Regions from separate parts of the Homo sapiens genome. Here regions 2 and 3 are each reported to be linked to region 1. Evidence: microRNA targets listed by miRTarBase, many of them from high-throughput screens and not tested one by one. Region 1 holds a microRNA gene; each other region holds the end of a gene's coding sequence.

The links. The annotated mature microRNA hsa-miR-216a-3p reads UCACAGUGGUCUCUGGGAUUAU and lies in region 1 at 4,555-4,576, opposite strand. An mRNA with a match to its seed (bases 2 to 7 or 8) in the 3' UTR can be bound and repressed. Matches are read on the target gene's strand: a 7mer-m8 pairs with bases 2 to 8, a 7mer-A1 pairs with bases 2 to 7 and ends in A, and an 8mer does both.
Region 2: miRTarBase lists LYSMD3 as a target of hsa-miR-216a-3p. Seed matches in the 3' UTR shown: 7mer-A1 at 5,418-5,424.
Region 3: miRTarBase lists MBL2 as a target of hsa-miR-216a-3p. The part of its 3' UTR that is shown has no 7-base or 8-base seed match.

What each region holds. Positions count from the first base shown.
Region 1 is chr2:55,984,427-55,992,821 of GRCh38, forward strand. MIR216A (microRNA 216a) reads right to left here and starts at 4,633; the gene lies at 4,524-4,633. The region is part of intron 2 of MIR217HG (MIR217 host gene); the gene reads right to left. The region is part of intron 3 of LOC105374690 (a long non-coding RNA gene); the gene reads left to right. RefSeq lists enhancers at 934-993, 1,024-1,113.
Region 2 is chr5:90,512,565-90,519,564 of GRCh38, forward strand. LYSMD3 (LysM domain containing 3) reads right to left here. Exons shown (of 3, transcript NM_198273.2): 3 at 3,062-6,920. The coding sequence ends at 6,255. POLR3G (RNA polymerase III subunit G) reads left to right here. Exons shown (of 8, transcript NM_006467.3): 8 at 1-1,993. Among named protein-coding and RNA genes, the nearest start is that of LYSMD3, 14 kb to the right of the region's middle.
Region 3 is chr10:52,762,339-52,769,338 of GRCh38, forward strand. It overlaps MBL2 (mannose binding lectin 2), which reads right to left. Exons shown (of 5, transcript NM_001378373.1): 4 at 6,909-6,977; 5 at 3,042-6,172. The coding sequence ends at 5,799. Among named protein-coding and RNA genes, the nearest start is that of MBL2, 6.9 kb to the right of the region's middle.

The DNA of each region.
Region 1 (8,395 bases):
CTCATTTATCTGGATTCCAAATAGGCTTGAGAGTTAAGGTTAATCATATTTTCATTTTACAGATAGTGAAAATTTGGAGTACATTAAAGTATCTTAGGGACATAATTTCTAGCTTATTGTTTCTCTCTCTAGAGGTCTTATATGTGATCAAATACAGTATCTCAATTGTTTACCAGACATTTCCCTAAAATCTGTATATCTTTTCTAAAGGGTATTCAAATGAAGCCAAAGACTTGTAAGCAGAGTGGTCTTAGAAAACCTAAAGACTCCTTACTGGAGAAGGAACCCCAGGAGGAGCACCTGAGAAGCCAGTTCATCATGATGTTCCCCTCTAGTTAGTATTGTCTCTCTGTAGTTATAGTTTCTGAGTTTTGCAGCAAGATTTGACAGATTAGGGACTTGGGTTAACAACTCTTGTGGTGATTGGGAAACCAGTTTGTATTGTGTCATTTGTGTGCTGGGATGAATTGTGATAAGATAGTGAAAGTAGGTGAAGAATAGGCTTTCTTAAGATTTGATTGTTGCAAATATGCTCTATGTGATCTTCCTCAGGTAGTGTCATTAATTAAAAATAACAGGGCAGGAGTCTTGTCATAATTTTAGGCTTCTTTTGGCTATTATCTGGAGTGTCCAGCATAAGACTGCAAGTTTTAAAGTCCCAAGGACTGGGATACAGTTGGCTGGGATGACTGGATATTAAAATGTCATCTTTCCTTACAAACTACTGCAGGGAATCAGATGGGGAAGGAGAGATTCATCAAGGTGGGTGAAAAGGTCCTCTAGGCCAGTGGCTCTCAAAGTTGAGCAATAATCCACAGGCTTGTTAAAATATAGATTGCTGAGACCCACACCTAGAGTCTCTGATTTAGTAAATCTGGGATGGGGCCCAAGAATTGGCATTTTTAACAACTTCTCTAGTGATATGGTCCAGGGGCCATAATTTTAGAACCAGTGCCCTACCCTAGGCAGAGACTATTTGAGTTATTGGAAACAGGTGATCTCAAACAGGACCTTGGTAAGTGAATGTGATGATCTAGAAGGAAAAAGGCCAGAATTGAGCACCTATAGAAGTTCAAGTCCTAGTAATTATTGTAGTTCAAGAATGTTGCTTGTTGAATGTCACTATATTATTATAGGTCTTTAAGGAGTACATTTGTAACTTCCTGTTTTCATTTCCTTTCACCGCAGAGAAATCACAGAACAGAAACTCTGCTTTTCTCTGGCCAACTAATCACTACTTGAGTTTGGAAATATAACTAACATGCCTGTAGACAATGCAAAATGATAGTAAGCAATACAACTGAGATTGGCCACTATAAAACAGAATCCTAAAATTCAGGTCACAGTTTTGAGCAATCTTTAGAGCATTGTATATGCTGAAGAGTATTTCCCAGTAATTGAGGTGTGTATAATATAACTAAAAAGCAGAGGATCACCCTTTCCAGGGTATTTCAAGAGTTTTTCCAGAGAGATCCTCCTGGTATGTCCATGCCAGGTGACGAGCCCAAATTGGGTACCTTGCAGGGTTACGGATCCTGAGGGGACTTATCTGATACAGAATTAAGTCTGTAACCAGAAAAGCTCTTTCTGTCCTGCTCTACCTTAATGATAGACAGCTCTGGCTTGGATAAGACGGTTATAGAGACTCATCTATAGGAGTTTCATGGTGAATCTTGCAGTGATCATTAAAAACAGAAGCCATTTTTGTTTATTTTGTTTTGCTATTGTTTTGGTTGGGCTGAGGGCAGGCTGCCAAAGGAGGGAAAAGTGGGACTTTCTGGGCATTCAATAAGTGTTCATCATTTAGTGGTACAGCATGGGGGAGGGCCACAGAAAACTCTAATCTGGATTTCCACAGAAGACAAACATTTGGAGCCTGGGGCCATCTTTACCAGGCAGAAATATAATTCAGGTTTTCAACAAAAGCTCAGGATCACAGATTCAGCAGACATCTAAGGTCTAGTCCTGCGGACTGGCAGTAGGTTCTGCTTGTTTGCTCTGATTAAGAGGCCGGCTGCTTGCACCTTGACTTTCATAGTCTTCATGGTACAGGTGGAAAAGGGATAATAAGTGCCACGCTCTAGGTGCTGGTGAATGAGATGATGAGCTAGGAATGCTGAGGACTTAGTTCCCAGGAGCCCTAACAAGGTCTTCGGTCATCAGCAAGACAGAGCCTCTTTACTAAAAGGGTGGGAATCCTGTTGTACTCTATTTTTACTGAAGACTGGCATAAACCCAGTCTAACAAATGATATTTTGAATGTCTCATTGACAGAGATGCCAAATCCTTCACTTATTTTGATGCTAATTACTACCAGGATGTAATTCTAAAATTATTAAGCTTTAAAAGAAAAGTCAGAATCTATGTGTTGAAAGGATAAGTGATTTTCTTTTTTTCTTGAAACAGTGACTCAAGCTGTTGCCTAAAGGAGTTGGGGCTCCTGATTTCTGAGCTAATTTCCTTTTTGTTCTTTCATACTAGCTTTCCTCTTGGTTGGAATCTGCCTATCCTGTGGTCTTACATTCCTAAAGTTAAATGACAAGGAAGTTATTTGCAGTCCACAATAACTATTTTTCTTTAAAGTTTATACATGGTTAGATTCTAAGAAAAGTCTATTAAACTGTGTTACTGGTAAATAAGTCATGCCACTTCTTTAATTAAAACTCTCCAATTGCTTGTGGAGTCCCTCACACTAAAACCCCAAATTCTTACCATAGTCTACCTAGCTATACCCTCTAATCCTCTCCTTCCAGTTTTTCTCACTGCACTCCAACCACAGCTTCCCTGTTGAGCTCAAATACAGTGATTCTCACCTTTGGCTGCACATTACAATCCCCTGGGTGCCTCTTAAACAGAGATGCCCAGATCCCATCCCAGGCATTCTGATTTATCAGTGGCACAGCCCTTGATATTGACATTTTCAAAAGCTCCCTGTGCCTCTATGTGCAGAGAGCACTGGGAACATCTGGAGACTGCAAGAGTGCACTGAGTGTACACACAAGCAAGGCAACAAGCATGGTTCCTGATGCATCATATGTACTCAGCTCTTCAAAAAATATTTCCTGCTCTGTTTAATTACATTTATCTTCTTCCCTTTTTGAAAAATGGTCACCAAAAATTGGAATTGGGAATTTTTTCATGTTTGAAAAAATGATTATTTCAACTAGCAGGAGGATACAGACAACATTTAGAAAGTTTCAGCAGCAGCTTAAAAGAGCCCTTAATGAGTCCTGAAAATTAATACGAAGCCCTCTCCTTACCAGAGGTAAGTTATTTCCTGGCTTATGGTTCAGTATTTGTGCTATTAGTATGTGAATAACTAGTTCTCAAACTTACCTCCTACTGCTCAACATCAATTTCTGGCAAGGAAATCTAATAGGTCATACTAATGTGCCTTGATACAGAAATGTAATTTTTTTTTTTTTTTTTTTTGAGACAGAGTCTCGCTCTGTCGCCCAGGTTGGAGTGCAGTGGCGCAATCTTGGCTCACTGCAACCTCCGCCTCCTGAGTTCACTCCATTCTCCTGCCTTAGCCTCCTGAGTAGCTGGGACTACAGGTGCCCGCCACCATGCCCAGCTAATTTTTTGTATTTTTAGTAGAGACAGGGTTTCACCGTGTTAGCCACGATGGTCTCGATCCCCTGACCTCATGATCCGCCTGCCTCAGCCTCCCAAAGTGCTGGGATTACAGGCGTAAGCCACTGCGCCCGGCCCAGAAATGTAATTTAATCAAACTGAGATATACAGACTTCTCTTTCTGAGGATACCTGAGGGGATATGTGCCAGTCAAGACCTTGGAAATAGCATTTTAATAATTTTTGTTGTTAAAGTTATCCCACATTTAATTATAAATTTGGTTCATCTGATTTGTTTTGTGTTACTGGGTGAATGAGGAAGATAACTGGCCTTGATTTTTCACCCTGAAGAATTACATTTGTTCTTATTCTTTTTATGGAAAAGGATTATCTGTTTCCAGGGATCACCGAGAATTAGAGTTGGGTACAGCTCAAAAGTTTCATGGCAACCTCAGCCTAAGCCATAGTTGATTCTAAATTTCAATATTATTTAGGGCAGATGAATGTGAAACACTTACAGAAGGAATGAGGAAGGGCGATTAAATGTGATAATCTGGGGAGTTGAAGTTTGAGGAGGGCCTGGCAGGAGATCGTCCTCTTTTAGACTGTTTGGAATTTGATGGAGTAGCACCCACAAAGAGAGTGGGAGGAGCTTTCAGAGGGAAAATATTTTGGGTTCAGCTTCTAACACCCAAACTCCCTTGGCTGCAATTTTTTAAAAAACCAAGTAGCACTGAAGGAGCGCAGTAAGTAGCAAGCGAATCCAATAAAGGCAAATTAATTCCCAAGGCTGGTTTCCTTTCCAGCACAACAGCACTTTAGAAAAAGACTTTACTAAGATTAAAAGAGGTTGAGCATGAAACAGTAACCATCGAAACTTTTCCCCCCGTCTTGGTCATGAAATAGAAATTTGGTGTTTAATTTTGGTTGCCATGCAAGTCTTTTGATTCGTGAGGGCTAGGAAATTGCTCTGTTTAGCATAATCCCAGAGACCACTGTGAGGGATTGTATGAACATCTCACAGTTGCCAGCTGAGATTAAGCCAACTCACAGCCATCCGTGTTAGACCTGCAAGAGAAAGTGTATGAGCAGAGGCACGTGGCTGCCTCAGGTGGAAGCACATCTTCATACATCGAGTGCACCAGCAGAAGCCCTGATGTACCCCTCTGCATTTTTCTTGAGGCGACATTATCAAGCTACTCCTCTTGCTGAATTCACAGATTTCTGGCATATGCTATATTGCATGTAATGTCATAAAAGTATAATCTTTGCATTTAGAAAGGATTTACTCTAATCCATATATAGTAAGAAACAGCCAAGTAGGAGTACAGGTGAATGTAAAACCAATCACTAAAAATGATTTTTTAAACAAGCTTTATAGAGAACTTGGAAACATCAAAGCCAAACACTCTAAAATTTGTCCTCAGACAAGAAAACCAGCAATTACGTTGAAAAAGTAATGACCGTATACTCACCAAATGGCCAGATGTGTCAATAGCGGTGGCTATTACCTTTCATAGATGGTGGTATGTCCTCCCCTCTTGCCCACATCACTGTCATGGCTAAGTGAGACTGAGCCATGATCTAAGCCCCTCAGTCCACTGGGTGGGGCTAATCAATGGTAAGAATAATGATTAAGAACGGAAGGAAGAGGAAACGCCCTCAGAGTTTCCCCACCATCTGCCGTGGATGGCATCTCAACTTGAGTGAGTGTAAGAAGCACATAGGAAACTTGTTACAAATGTAGATCCCCAGGACCTACCTCTATATTTTGATTCAGTAGGTCTGGTTTTGGTGGCTGCGATTTGCACTTCGGTGGAGATTTTCCACTGCCTTTCTCCAGCTTCACTTCATACTAGACCATTTCTTCCTCTACATTGTAGACTCCAGCTCTAACAAGTTCTGAGAATCCAATGAGCTGTGTTTGCCCATACTTGGAATTATTTCTTCTTTCTCTCTCCCTCCTCTCTCTCTCTTTCACACACACACACACACACACACACACACACACCCCCTTGTGTGACAGTCACACATTGAAAACTATCACACACTGCCTTCTCTCCCCAGTCTCCCTTTTTTGGCACCTGTAATACACAATGGTGTTTTCTCACTCACATGCTTTCTCCTTCATTGACTGCAAACTTCCAAGTGTTGGCACTGTGCTTATTCATCTCTATATCCTCAACTATACTATTCTCAGTTTAGCATCTGATGTTTAATAAGTGCTCAAAAAAATTTTGTCAAACTAAATCAAATGTTTGTTGAAGCAAAGAATTATGGATTTCAGCTCATAACTTGTCCTTTAATAATTGAGACTTGACACAATTAAGAGAGTGGTAATTTACAGAGTTAGAAAAGTGGCTTTTCGTTTTAAAAGTCAGGTAAATATAAAGTTACAAAACAATTGAGAAAGAACAATTGAATATAATCTTGTGCCTCATATGGACTCCTAAGTACAAAGCTACTTTTGTAAAATAAGAATGTCTCATCATTAGGATTTAACTTTTTAAATATTGTTCTAAGTTTATTTTCTGGAGTCAAATTGCTCAGGATTAAAAATAAGCAGATTTTATCTTAATCAAAAAACAAGGGCTTCTCAGAGCAACATGAATGACGTTCAGTTTTTTCTTTTCTCTTAATCTTATATTTGATTTTCCTTTCTCTCTAGAAAGTTTAATAGTGAAAAGTTACCATAGAGAAGTGACAGGAGTATGTAGTTCTTCTTCCCTCTGCTAGAAAACATTAAGAAAAGATCATAAATGGGAACATCATATGCTGATGTGGAAGATGAGACAGCTTTTTATTAATCTTAAGTTGTCATGTCCACAACTGCACAGGGAGGTGGGCTCTCAATGGAAGCAAAGACATATACGTTTCTGCCTTGCCTACCTTAGTGGGTTGCTGTGATGGGCATTTAAAAAAGAAAAAGGAAGAAACTGATACAAAGTTGTTTTGGCAACAAAGCTATATTAATGTGGATAGATAGTCCACAGGCCAGATAAACTGAAATACAGTAGCAAAGTATCAAGGAGTAAGCTGTTTCTAACACTATCTATACATTCTGTTCAAGTATTCTGAGGATATTATCTAAGATGTCTCTATATGCATATTTTGGGTGCACCGCAATGTATGCATTTGTGATCTTAGTTCTGTTAGAGACTCTCTATAGATTTGTATTTGAGAGTAATAAATTTCAGTTTGGTCATTGGGTCTGTTCAGATGGTGGCAATTTTCCTATTTCCCTGAAGACTAGTGTTATTTATTCAAAGCTGTAATTATTTGGATATCTTCTGAAAACCTGGAGGACTACCCCTTCCTGCAGCTATCTTGGCTGTGGAATGGTGTGTGGGGTGTCGGGAAGCACATGAGCTTTGGAGTGAAGTGGACCTTGGTGTGACTCCTGGTTCTAATACTTAACTACCTGTGGGCTTTAAGGCAAATTGTTTTATTTCTTGGAGCCTCAGTTTCTGTGTTGGTAATACTTGTGCATGAGATTAAGAACTAAATGTGGTGTTTGTGAAAATGTCTAACTAGTACAGAATCTGATACACAGATTCTCCATAAATGCTAATTTTATTTTGTTTTAATTTTACTCCTATGTCCTTTGGTTAACTCAATTACTTTTTCTGTTAGTTTTACAAATCTTCCACCTCTAGAGTTTACAAATGTTATCCAAATCCCACTCATTTTTTATGCTTGTGTCTTTTTTGTTATTTTCCTCCTTCCTAGAATTTTTTCATATCCATTTCTGTATCTTGCTTGAATTACTGGTTTATTACCAATGTACTAGGGTAGTTAGTATATAGGTCAAGAGATGTCTCAATCTCTAAGTTGAAGGGCTTCTGAGTTTACATGATGTTATTGATTCCTCTGAACCTTATGGTATCTAGAGTTGATACAAGCTGTATTTGCAATTCAGTTTTCTCTTCTTTCTCTCCATCATCTGAGACATGTCCTCCCTCAAACTTCAGCCTTGAATTCTGAAACATCTCAGGTCTTTGGATACTCAAACTCAAGCTAGTGCTGAAGTAGTATTAATTTTGTTATATTTGAGTATCTTTTGCATCCTACTTTTTGGAAATTAACTCAAAACAAAGGTAGAAAATCTATATAAATCAACTGAAAAAGTGCTGGTAGATGAGAGGACCCATGAGAATCCACTCAATGTTACTCTCTTCTGTATCCTAATTTCCTAGCAGTTATGATAACTACCTGAAGTTTCCCTAAATGAACTTCTGCTCTTTGATTTCTGGTTGAGAGTCACTATCCAAGCAATAACTCTTTTCAAGTCTGCTTCCTTTCACCTTGTCTTTTTGTTATTTCTGGGACTGGGACTCTGTATCCTCCAAGGTTTGAAAAATAGCCAAACATTATTTATTATTTTTGCAGCCTTGTAGGCATTTGGAAAATGTTTGGCTTCAAATTGATTTCAATAAAATAGTTGGCTGGAGTTACAAATGAGCATTTTGGCTGGAATTGTGTTAAATACCAGTTTGAATTTTGGTAAAGCTGCCCTGAATACATCTATCTTTGTCAATGGATTTGTTTGTTTATTAAGTGCATACTTTCTGGATTTTTGTGGGAAAAGAAGGTCAGACAGAGGAACATGAGGATTAGAAGTGATTACGAACAGGGAAAGGGATTCATGGAGAGTGGTGTCTAGAGATAAGGCATTACGAGAAGGGAATTTGAGTCATAGTGTGCATAAGTGGGTGTCGAGTCCAAAGCCAAAGCCGGAACTGCCATTGAGCTGAGCTTCCCACTGGCATGTTTTCCACATTCTGAATGGTGGAGACATTCTTGAATAGGTAGTCACAATT
Region 2 (7,000 bases), not on the chromosome of region 1:
GAAACTTGAAAATAATTTTATTTTTTACCTTTACATGGTGTGTTCTAGACTACTGCATTATGACTACATAAACCTACCTGAGCTCTTACAAGTACAGAATTGTGAGACAGAGGTTTTGTGATGGAAAACATACACATAGGGAAAAATACCAAACTGAGCAATATAAATTTCACAGCTCACATCTTAGCCAGTACAAAGAAACTTTCACATGGGGTGAATATTATAATACTTGAATTTGAGACTTAATACTGTATATGAATTAATCATCCCACTGTAATAACTGACATCTTCAAATAGTTGGGCTTATGAAAAATTTGACTAAGACATTTTATTTTATACTTTATGTAAATGTGAAATAAGTTCTGGTCATATAAATATGTAGAATGCATGTGTGTGAACTCTATGAAGTGAAGTGTGGTGGCCTTTTATGTTTCAGAGTACTCAAGTGTACAATTGATTTATATAAAAATGCAAAATGAACTCAGGTCATTTTGAAATTAATATTAATATTTTTGTTGTTTAACTTTAAAGCTAGCTCCCCTAACTTTATATATTTTTTGGGAAAAAATACCTAAAAACCTCAGCCTACAAAGACTCTCAGAAATGCCAAAGATTTTCAAGGAAATTCATATTATATATTTCAAAAATGATTTATCAATGTTATCTACCAAAAGAAATAATTTTATTTTTCCCCTTTGGGGAGATATTATCCTCTAATATGAGAATCAGATCCCTAGATTCTATTTCTACCTATACTATTAAACTCAACCTTGAACCTGAGCTTGGTTGTTTCTGTGCCTTAGTTTCTCCACTCGTAAACAATTTCCTATAAAAATTGTTTAAACACCAACCAAAATTTACCATATGTATTCATTCTCTTGCCTTAAAGATCACTTCTTAACTTACATTTGGCTCTCACCCTCTAAAAATTTGTAGTTTGGAGAGTAACTGAAAGCACAATTTTAAGAAACATGTTTTCCTCACAAAATATATTGTAATCTGATTTTCCTATCTTGTATTCATGCAGAAAATTGGAGAAAATGTGTATTGTCTTGTGCCATTCTGCAATATGAATTTCTCAGGAAAAAGATGTTTCAATGGCAATACTTTCTTAAATAATTCAAGATGGGTGTGAGGACCTATCTTATTAGTTTAGTGCTGTGTTAACCATTTGTGAATTACTTCTTGTTTAAAGGAAGTTGTCAAAAAATTTTAAGATTCTAAATGGAATACACGAATAAAGTAAGCCTTAGAATAGAAACCTCACAAAAAGTTGTCATTTGCGGTTGATAATTAACATAGGTGTTTTATTCTCTCAACTCCTTAGTACCAGAGCCAAATACAATTTAGTTTTCAGAAATCTTATCAATATTGTTCTATTTACCTACTTATAAATCTGCAGATAACCACTTGAACCAGGCAAATACACTGAAGATAAAGGTTATTTCTTTTTTTAGCTTTGAATTTGTCATGACCATTTTAGTCTTGCAGATAGCAGGGCAGCCCCTTGGGGCAAGGATTTACTCTGGGAGGTACCGTTAAGAGCCTTCTTTCCCCCTTTGAAAGATCCTTTTACAATGTTAAAGTATACTAGTTGCAAGAACAAGCAGGATTTGCAGGTTGCTTTACCAGCATGAGTCTCATTTTTCTGGCTTAAAATCTGGGACTGTGAAATTATTCCATAGGAAAGTGAATGTTATTTTGCAGAATTAGCCTCTTACATAAAAGTATTTGTTGAAGTGTCTTTAAAATTGCTATCATGAGCAAAACTGGTTGCTGTAATGCTTGTTTTTCTGTATTTATTTACACATTAAATTCTTACAAAACAAAATGTGTTCGTTTGTTTTATAGTAAGATGTTTTATTTTGAACTTATTTAAATGTTTATTTGTTAGAGAAAACTAATTTGTTAATATAGATCTTAACTAGTAACTATTAAGCAGGGATGTTTGTTCCAAATATTCTTGAATAAACAATCACCACAAACAACAAAACTCTGGTTAATGATTATTCAAAAAAGTTGTTGTGAGATGGGCATGCTGGTCTGTGCCTATAGTCCCAGCTACTCGGGAGGCTGAGGTTGGAGAATTATTTGAGCTCAGGAGGTCAAGGCTTCAATGGGCCAAGAGGAGGCTGAGGTGGGAGGACTGCTTGAGCCCAGGAGGTCGAGGCTTCAGTGAGCCAAGATGGCAACACACACACACACACACACACGAGTTATGATAACTTAAGAGATTTGGCAGACAATATAATTTAGTGTGATCATTCATGCTTGGGCTGACTTATAGTGGATACCAGAGAATGTTAAGACATTCAGAAGATTCTTTTTAAACTTTTCACTTCACTACCTTCAAATGTACAGTGTCGATGGCTTTGCCTTTACATGGTTAAAATCTCAAGCCCGTGTGGTGGCATGTGCCTGTAGTCCCGGCTACTTGGGAGGCTCACATGGGAGGATCAGTTGGCCCCAGGAGTTCGAGGCTGCAGTGAACCATCATGCTATTGCACTCCAGCCTGGGCAACAGAGCAAGAGCCTGTCTCCAAAAAAAAATTTAAAAAAACCTCTGTAGTAAAAATTACTATTTATTAAAAAAAATTAACACAATATTAAGATCAAGATGCATTTGAAAATGGAAGAAAAAAATCAGGGTTTATACACATTCCTCCATTAAATAAATAAAAGCTCCAAAGAACTTTCTCAATTTTTCTGCTAATAATCTTTTAAACAGTATTCTTGAGGTTGTTTTATAATAAATTAAAATCACATATAAAGAGAGCAGGTTATAATCTATAGATAATGACTCATCTACAACTTCATAGCAATTCCTGGACCATGCCTTACCAGATCTTACCCTGAGGAAAATCTCCCAAAGAACATTCATCTAAAATATTTCATCTATGTCTTACAAATAATCCAAGGTATTCTGCTTCACTGTAGCAAATAAGAAATCTGAATTGGTAAACCTTTGGCAATCTGCTCTATCTTACATAATATCTCTATATTAGATAGTTTGAAAGTGGAGAAAAGCTTTGCTTTATTCAATTAAATTCACTGGCTTCCATTTTAGATTGAATAAGAGAAACTTTATTACATGTTGGAGATCTTTCAAAATATGAAAAATAAGGGGCAAAAAATTTTAAAAACTGGTTTTACAGATACACATGCTAACAATGTTCTACAGTTACATTTGTATAAAATACATTATACAAAAGATTTATAGATTTTGCATACATAAAAATTAAAGCATTCAGATATTTCTATGATCTAACAGTGCAATATGCACATACGTGGAAGAAAATACTGATTACCTGAGCAACATTTTTGTAATGCAAATTAAAAATGAATCCATCAGTGCACCATTTAAATACAGACTTTAAAAAACTCCACCTTTACCCTGTAACACTGACTAGATCCTTGCTTCATGATATTTCTAAAACTAAGCATATCCTTCATATTTTCAACTAGGTAATTTTAGAAGTAGATACTTTAAAAAAGAACTAATTACTAAGTAGTGGTTCATTTAAATAACTCTTCAGGACACTGAACCAAGCAGGTAGAGTCCAGGAAAAGAAAAGCTGTAAATAAAAAGTCCTTTGGAGGAGATAATTTAACATGAGTCTTCTAATTTTTAATGTGGCCAGCAGAGTGTGTAACCATTTTTAACATATCTTTTGAAAATATGAACTCCATAACTTCCTAGGAGTGAGATAGCAAAGAAATTTTATTTTAACCGAGACTTCATAAAACTATCAGCTTTTTGTTTACTTGCTAACTCCAAAATTTTAAGTAAACCAAATGCAATGATTCTGCTGTTACTTTTACATTGCATACAAGTACATGCGTGCACACATGCAGACACACACACAGACACACATGTAAAGCAACAAATTCAAAGAAGGGTGTCAACACAATTAAAATCCATAATGTTAAACAATAACTGTGCTTGTTAGTTATACAAGGTAATTTGCATTTGATATAAACTTAACTTACATTAGTACTTTTTAGAAACTAAAATTATTCCAAATGTATTAAATGCTTAGAAAATTCATTTCTTTCCTAAACAGATTAGAACCATAATTCAATATGTAACCTTTATATAGAATTATATGTAACTCAAATTATATTCAATTAATTCAAATATATAATTTAAATACAGAAAAAAGAAAACTACCTGATGTGTTATAAGGATGTATATTTCCTTCAAAAAAGGATACTCTGCAAGACAAATGATTTTTAATCAACAAATACACAGCACACCTTATTCCTTTAAAAAATAAGTTACATATTTTGGAAATCGAACCCATAACAATTTCAAAGTACAACTAGCAAAAAAAGTAAGGAATCACTGACTGTAATTTCATCAATTTGATGTAAACAAAGTTCTTCAAAGGACACCTGGCCTGTTTACCCTAAAATAATCTGCATTTTCTTCCTTAAAACCTCATTTTTCAGCAGACTTAATAAATACAATGTAAAATGACCAGTTAACACTAAGCATAAATTATATCACACTCTTCTTTTCAAGATGCCCAAGGCACATTAAAACTACTTTTTAAATGTTTAATTTACTAAGAGAATCATTTGCAACTTCCCTATTAAACACTTTTTGGTAATTGTCTAAGGTCCTCTAATATTTGCAAGGGCTTTAATGTTTGACTTCTTTGTCCTGTCTTTTCCTGATGGTCTTCTCCTGAAAGTACATAAAACTGCATTTGCCATAAATATTTACTTATTCTGAGTTAAATTTGAAATATATAAAATGACTTATCAAAAGCCTGAAACATCAACAATTAGGAAATAATGCCCAGAAAATGAGGTGGTATTATATATCTTAAGTATATATTATATACAAAACAGGCAATCCAGACTCCACCAAATCTCATTTCTATTGAAGAATCATTCTGGTTACATTTTTAAAACACATACTTTTAAAGATTAAATGATGGAATCAGTATGCAAATGCTTCTTACTTAGCCAGACTGTAGCCGACTCAACAGATCTTAAAAAGAGGCACTACCACCCCCTTTCAAGCAATCTATACACCTTTGGCCTTTGTTTCCCAATTTGATGCTATATATAGAGATCAGGAAAAAAGTCTAAATTGGATATTTTCTCTTTGAAAAACAGAGGTTAAGGGATTACTAAATAATTTGTCTGTTACTGCTAATATAAAATACCTCTACTCTTTTTTGCTTAATGAACCATTTTCTTCAACAGACCTCAAAGGCAGTTTTGACCCAATTATTTGTGCTTGATGGTGAAAATGGAGACAAATTTATATAGCCTATGTAACGAATCTGATTGGACCATATGAAATAATGCTTATTTTTAATTCTGAAACTTGGATTTACTTACATAAAGCAGTAAGGCATTAAATGTAATTAAGGCATGTTACTGTATGTAACAGCAATGATTTATCACAGTATATAAGGAATTATTTCCTAAATAATGGTAATATGCACGTTTAATATATTTTTCATCATCAAAACTACAAAAGTGCTTTCAAATATCAGAGGCAAATATAATCATTTTAAAAACAGATGCACAGAGGTGAGGTTAAAGGGTCTGTCCTAAAGAAAGCATTCTTAAGACAAAAATTACTGTCAGGTCTTCACCTATTCCAGTGTTCTACTGACTTCCCAACCATAATACATTATTTTGGGGTCTTGAAAATATTTTAATCTATTTCTTGGCCTCTGTTGTAGGAATTATAAATCACTTTCCCCTTTCTCTTTGTACGTATGCTTTCATAGCACATGTGCTAAATGTATTTTTTAAAAGTTTTGAAGGGGTGTGTTACGTATCCTACCATGAATAATTTTAGAATCAAATTTTCTTGCAACTGAATATTTTGGGGGTTCATAGTAGTAAATTTTTTTCAGCTGCAGACATCTGATGCTATCATTCTGCATCATAAATTTAACATTAATAAACTTTTTAAAAATTACTTAAAAAAATAAAATTTAAACATGCATTTTAAGAAAAATGATACATCTTCCAAGTTAAGTACTTCCTAAACACACATTTAAATTAATTTCTGCTTGAAACATTCACACACCAGATTTATGGATCAACTGCTCTCAACATCAACAACTAGTTGCTCAAAAAATTTTCAAAGTGTGAAACCCTTTTGTTAAAAACAAAAGCATCCTCAATCTCTCTAAATTCTGCCTTTGAAGCTATTATTGGATATAACTGATTCACCACATTCCAGATGCACATGTGACCACTAACATTTGATTATGAGCTAATTGCTATGTTTCCTGTTGAGCAGCAGGTGACTGAGAATCTTGACTATACAGTTTATGATCATCTTGTTGGCTGAAATGTATTCCTTTAGTTGGCACAATTCCATTTTCCATTTCTCTCTGCTGTGATGGGGGTGTGATTTTTGAATGTAAATGTGAAGAGTCCACTGTTGAATGATGACTAACATCCACCTTAGCTAAAATTTCATAATACAACAAATAAAACACTGGTGTTATTATACCTACTATCAACATTATCACTACAGCTGTCCACCACCCTATTCCCCAGTCTGCTCCATAATAGGGGTCTTTACGTTGAGTGTTTTTGTTATCAGGTTCAAAACGCATTTGTTGTGCTGTTAAGGCCGATACTACCTCATTGAGGTTCTCTCTCTTATTGTCTGTACACTTTACTATTTGTTCTATGTCTCGGTCTACTTCTTTTAAAAAGCTACCAGCTGAGTCACTGTAAGCAAGAGAATCATTAGCTGGCAAAATTTCCTGTTGTTCGGAAGAGTATTGAACAGATGAATGACGTGAAGTCTGTCTTCCTTTTGGAGGACAAAGTGTTTCGGTCAAGGAACTGAACTTTTTTACTGGAATTTTGATAGACCTAAGGGCAAAAAAGTCTTGATCACTGATGAGATTGTTAACTCTCTTGATATCTGCTACCTGTGGGGGGGAAAAAAAAGCAACATACAACTGAATTCCAATCAAAATAAAGGCAGCAATAGTCATTCATTCTAGTTACT
Region 3 (7,000 bases), not on the chromosome of region 1:
CTTTGAATCACACACACTACAGTAGCCCACTCCCTCCTCATGAATCCCCCAGTGGGGATGTGAGCCCAGACCGCAGAGTGACTTTTTATGGAGGTCCTGGAAAGCACATGAAAATATCTCAATTCATTCATTCATTCATTCTCTCTCTCTCTCTCTCTCTCTGTTTTTCTGTCTTCCCAATCATAAGACTGAAGCTCAGAAGGATGTTTTCCAGGGAACAATTCAGTCTACTGTAGTATACACAACAGGAGTCTCCACTGCCAAGTGTATTTGTTTTCTAGGGCTTCCATAATAAACTACCACAAACTGGGTGGCTTAAAACAACATAAATTTATTCTTACACAGTGCTGGAGGCTAGAAGTCTGAGAGCAAGGTGTCACTAGGGTTGGTTCCTACTGGAGGCTCTGAGGAATATTATTCTATGCCTCACTCCTAGCTTCTGATATAGGCCATCATAGGTAAACAGCCCTGAGGAATTAGCAGCAGTTTCCTGGCTGAATGGTTCATCATATTCTGTGTTTTCTCATAGAATGGACGATTTTAGTAGAAAACAAGTTTGTAGGCAGACGTTTCAGAAGAAGTTGGCAGAAGTTTCTGATACCAGTATTGTCCACAATCTTTGGCAGTCTTTGTCTTAAAGATGTGTCACTCCACTCTCTGCCTTCTTCATCACACAGCATTCTCCTTGTGTGACTGCGTGTCCAAATTTCCCTCTTCTTAGAAGGACACCAGTCAGTGGATTAGGGCCTGCTCTAATCCAGTGTGGCCTCGCCTTGTCTTTATCATAACTGTAAAGACCCTAATTCCACATAAGGGTGCATTCATAAGTCCTGGTGGTTAGGACTTGCATAGATTTTTTTTTTTTTTTTTTTTTTTTGCGACACTATTTAGCCCACAACATTAAGGAATGGGAATTCCTGACCAAGGACACTGAAGGTGGTCTATCCTGTGTTTCATTTCTTCTCCTTTGGTCCCTGGCCATCCCTTCCCAGTTCTGTCTTTTTATTGCTGGCTTATAGCAGTTGTTTCTGTATCCTATGTATCCTTTGACAGATGCAGGCCAATATTTGCAAATATTTTTCTCCTAGTCATGGTTTGCCTGTTTTCCTAATGTTTAACAAACTGAGTTAATCTTTAATTTTGATGAAATTCAATTTATCATTTTTTACTTGAAAAGTAATTGAGTTCTCTAAGACAATTTTGCCTAATGCTAAGTTACAAAGGATATCTGTACATTTTAAACCTAGATTTTTTTAGTTCTTCTGAAACAAAACTTTAAAAGAAGACAGCGAGCAAGCGAGAGACAATCAGAATGTAAAGAGAAAACAATGTAACACAAAGGAATGTAGCTCTTATGATCCTTTGTACTTGTATGTTATCAGTTGTCGTGTCTCCTCTCATTTCTGATTTTGAGTCTTCTCTGTATTTTTCTTAGTTATTTTAGCTAAAGTTTGGAAATTGTATCATTTCACAAAAATTAACTTTTGAGTTTCATTGATCTATTTGCTTTTCTACTCTCTATGTCATTTATTTCTATTCTGATCTTTGTTATTTCCTTCTAAAAGGGCAAAATATTAGTGAGAATACAGAAAATACAAAGAAGATTCATATCCTGACCTAATGATACACTAATCAACTGTAAAAACCACATTATTTCTAGTGCACATAATACATTTACCATTCTAAATCATAAACTGGATCATAAAATAAAATCTTAACAAATTTCAAAAGATTGAACTCATATAAAAGTATATTTCTGGATACAGTGGAATTAAACTATAAATCACTTACAGGAGTATAGCTTTTTAAAATACTCAAATATTTAGGAATTAAACCACACACTTATAAATAAACCATGAGTCGAAGAAGTCACAATGAAAATTATAAAATATTTTGAATTGGATATGAAAAACCTATTTTGAATTGGTGGGAAAAGATACATATCCAAACCTGTGGTATGCAGCTGAAATAGTTCTTAAATAAAAATTATAACTTTAAATGATTATATTAGCAAAGAAGGAAGGAAGAAAATCAGTTCTCTAAATGTCAATTAAAAGAAGCTAGAAAAAGAATGGCCAATTAAACCCACAGAAGATCGATACAAGAAATGATAAAGACAGGAACAGATATAAATAAATGTAATCATAGAGGTTAGTAAACACCAAAAAGAAGTTTTTGGAAAAATTTAATAAAATGGACAAATCCTTTGCAAGATTGATTAAGAAAAAAAGAGATGGGCCAAGCACAGTGGCTCATGCCTGTAATCCCAGCACTTTGGGAGGCTGAGGCAGGTAGATCACCTCAGGTCAGGGGTTTGAGACCAGCCTAGCCAGCATGGCGAAACCTCGTCTCCACAAAAAATTAAAAAAATTAGCCAGGAATGGTGGTGGGCATCTGTAATCCCAGCTACCTGGGAGGCTGAGGCAGGAGAATCTCTTGAACCTGGGAGGCAGAGATTGCAGTGAGCCAAGATCGTGCCACTGTACTCCAGCCACTCCAGCCTGGGTGACAGAGTGAGACTCCATCTCAAAAAAAAATACAATAAAATAAAGATAAAATGCAAATAATCATAACAGATACATAGACATTGCTATAGATCCTACTTATATTGAAAAGAAATACAAAGATATTGTAACAATTTTATGCCAATACATATATATTCAGAGGAAATTGACACATTCATTGAAAAATATAACTCACTGAAACCGAACAAAAGACAGAAAACATGAATAGGTTTAGATCATGAGGAAATTAAATCTGAAATTAAAATCATTTCCCAACAGAAAACACCATTCCAAGATGGCTTCACTGGTGAATTTATCTAACATTAAAGTATAATTTTACACAAATTATTTTAGATAATAAGGAGCATGAGAGCACATCACAGCTCATTTTAATGAGGCTTACATAACATTGACCCCAAACCATAGCAAGTGCATTAAGGAGGGGAAAAAAAGCTAGTATCTCTCATGAACATAGGTGCAAACGTTCTAAACAAACTATTAACAAGTCCACTCCAATAATACATACACAAGATAAAATGTGACTAAATGGAGTTTATTCCATCAAAGCAAGGTTGATTTAATTTTTAAAAATCGATATGTGTTATGTATAATATCACATTATCTCATTAAAAAGCATGTATCTAGCGGCATAACTGTGTGTATTAAGACCTAAAATATAGTATCCTGATACTTTACTACACACTTTAAAGGTGTTAACTTATTTCATCATCCCCACAATTTTCATGAAATAAGAATGATTATTTTCTCTCAGCTGCAAATACATGGCTGAAACACAAAGTAACTGGCTCTAGATCATGTAGCAATTAAGTGACAGAGCTGTGAATCCAGTTTAGATAGGCCTGACTGGAGCACTTCATTATATTGTCTTTCAGGAGTCTATACCTGATCTGGTGGTCTCTGTATTGGGGTTGCTAACCAGTGCAATAAGGTAAGAAAAAAGGTAAAGCAATTGGGAAGAAGCAAGTATTGCCATATTTTCAGCTTACATGACTATGCATATACAAAATCCAGAGGAATCTACAAATTACTAGATTTAAGAAATAAACTTATTGAGTTTACTAAACATCGTAAGACTACACACAAAACTTAACTGTATTTCTGTGTACAACAATAGAAAAGAAAAAATATTTAAAATATATTATTAAAATCACTAAAACCACCAAAACAAGATATACAAGGTTTTTAAACTAAAAATGTCAAAACATAGCAATTAAGTTAAAGAAATTCTAGTTACATGAAGCGATACATGATGAACATTGATTAGAGATTCAGTAGTAAGTTGCCAGTTCTGCATAAGTTGATTGATAGACTCAATGTGGTCCCAGTAGAAACCTCATCAGGATTTTGTAGAAATTGAGAAGCTGTTTCTAATATTTATATGGAAATCTTGACTTTAAGAAGAACAAAGCTGGACTATAGTTACAACTATAAATGTACAATAATTAAGATAGTGTACTGTTTGACACAAGCATCAACAAATAGACTAGAATAGACAGCCCAGAAACAGACACACACACATACAGTTACCTAACTTACAAAAATGCACCACCCTAGTTCAGTGGAGGAAAAATGGTCTTTCCTACATAGTGCTGTCTCAAGTGGATATCTATTCTACCAGGAATAGATAGAATGTTTATTAATAAAACTATTAGAAAAAAATGGAAAAATATCTTCATGATTTCAAAATCATGAAAAATCTCTTCATGGTTTCAAAATCATGAAAAATATCTTATGATTTTGGGATGGGCAAAAATTTCTTAAACATGACACAAAAAGCACTAATTTTGAAAGAAAATATGAATAAATAAGACTTTCTCAAAATTAGGAAATTTTGTTCATCAAAATTCAACATTAGGAGCAAGTCAAAAACTAGCAAAATATTTGTAATACACATTAAAAAGGACATATTCAGAATGTAAAAATAACTTAAAAATCAGTAAGAAAAATATTGGCTAACTAATTTAAACAAAATACAAAAATGTGAACGGGTACTTCACAAAAGAAGATACCCAAGTGCCCAATAAGCATATAAAAAAGTGTTCAACCTTATTACATGTTGGGGAAATACAGATTAAAACCATGGGGAAATATCACTTTACATCCACAGGAATAATGAAAATCAAGAGAACTGAAAACATTGACTTTTTACAAGCACATAGAGCATCTAGGACTGCCACACATTGCCGGTAGGAGCATAAATTCATACAATCACTTAGGAAAACTGGTAATATCTACTAAAGCTGAATACATGCTTTCCTCATCCTCTACCAGTTCCACTCCTGGATAGGTAGTGAAATTAGTGCACCATGTCCACCAAAAGACAAGTCCAGGAATGTTCGTGGGTTCTCTTCCTCATGGCCAAAAATTGGAAGCCACTTAAGTGCCTATTAACAATAGAATGGATGAACTGAGGAATATTAATATAAGGGAACCCTACATGGCAATGAAAAGGATGAAACTTTTGTACACATGACATGAATGAATCTCACAGACTTAATTCTGAGTAAACAAGACATACAACATTACACACAATATGATTCCAACTATACAATGTTTATAAACAGACGAAATTACTGTGCAGTCATGGAGGTCAGAATAGTATTTTCCTAGGAGTTAGTACTAGGAGGAGTTATAACGGGGCTTCTAGGGAGTCAAAAATGTCCCATATCTTAATCTAGAAAGTGAGTATATAGGTATGTATGTGTGTGAGAATTTGTGAAGCTGTTTGCTTGAGATTTGTTATTTATGTTCTTTACATGGTTTAATATCTCATTAGAAAGAAAACAGAGTTCATAGAGAAAGTTACAAAATAGATTTTCTTAATACCTGAAACTTGGTAAAAAGCTGTGGTATTAAACTGTGGTGATGTCATTAGGGGAGCCCTCTACCCAAACAGAAAGGAAGGCTCAACAGAGCACAGGTGTTTGTTGTAAATGGAAAAATAAATCCGTCTTATTTTCATACTGCAGCAAGTTAACACTATCGAAAGCATTACAGATTAATTAAACTAGATAATTAATGTAGGATGCAAAAGATAGGGCCTCATAGTATATATTAAAAATATTATATAATTAGCATGACTACTACTGCTGCTGCTAACTACTACTACTACTATTATTGCTTTGTTGGTGCTGTTAGTGATCATTTTTAGTGATTGCCCACAAAAGGAACAATACTGGATATGAGGAAATTGATATAATTTATCTTTTCAAGCATACTGTGGGCCTGTGGGTTGCAGTAAAAAGACAAGGAGGGCCTGAGTGATATGACCCTTCAGATAGGGAACTCACAGACGGCCAGATGGGAGGTGGAGCAGGGGACGTCATTCCACTGGCCATTTTTCAGTAGCAATACACAATCTTCATCAGAACCAGCATTGTTGGGTTCACCCTCGTTCCAGTTTGTGTAGGTCAGTCTATTTCCTGTCAGATCCACAAACTGCCCTTCTGTCTTCTCATCAGTGATGCCCAGGAAGGCTTCCTCCTTGATGAGATTCTGAATGGCTCCATTCTCTGCAGCATTCCTGGGGGTGGCCACAGAGGCCTGGAACTTGACACACAAGGCCTTCACTTTTTCAAAGGTCATTATTTCACCATTGGTCAGGAAGAACTTGTTCCCAACTTGTTTGCCCAGAGAGAAGGTGAGCCCTAAAATGTGAAAAAGTGGGTGAAACTGACTCATCCTTAAGCCCAACTCAAGGTATTTCTCAAGAAAAAGTCTTCTAGAGTACAGTTGCCGGATAAAATATAGTATGTCCAGTTAAATTTGAATTTCAGACAAACAATGAATATTTTAGTATATCTCCCATATAATTTTTCAGACACACTTATACTAAAAATGTTTTTCAGCTGAAATCCAATTTAACTGGTGCTTTGTCTTTTTATTTGTTAAATATGGCAACCCAAATGTGAACAGACAGACTGGTACAAAGGCCTCTCTGTGCTTTCAGATCAGAATTCTAAAAGACATATAATTTGGACTTCTGAATTCTAAATTGTTAACTTGAGACCAAACAAAAAATGTCTGAAAATATTTGCCCCAGGCAGGTTAGACCCCACGGCCAGGTCTCAATACCAGTGCAACAAAGGGATATAAGTCCCATTTTCAGTGAGCAATATCAGACGGTAAAGGATTAGGGTCTCTCGAGTCAGACTGACTTCCATCTATAAACCACCCCTGCCATTTATTAGCTCTGTGCATTTGAACAAGTAATTTAACTTCCCTTTGCCTCCATTTCTACCAAAATGTTGTGAGAATTTCATGAGGTAAGAATATGAGAAATGCCTAGCAGGGTACAGAAAATTATATGCATTCAACAAATATTTGTTGCATTCTATTTTTCCCAAACTTCAAGCTGCCTGGAGAGTAAGAGAAAAAGCTTACACTTTTTGATACGTGCCATTTCTGTTTGCAGAGCTTTTCTTTCTGAGGCAGCCAGGCTACTATCACCATCTAGAAAATTAGAACAAAGTAAA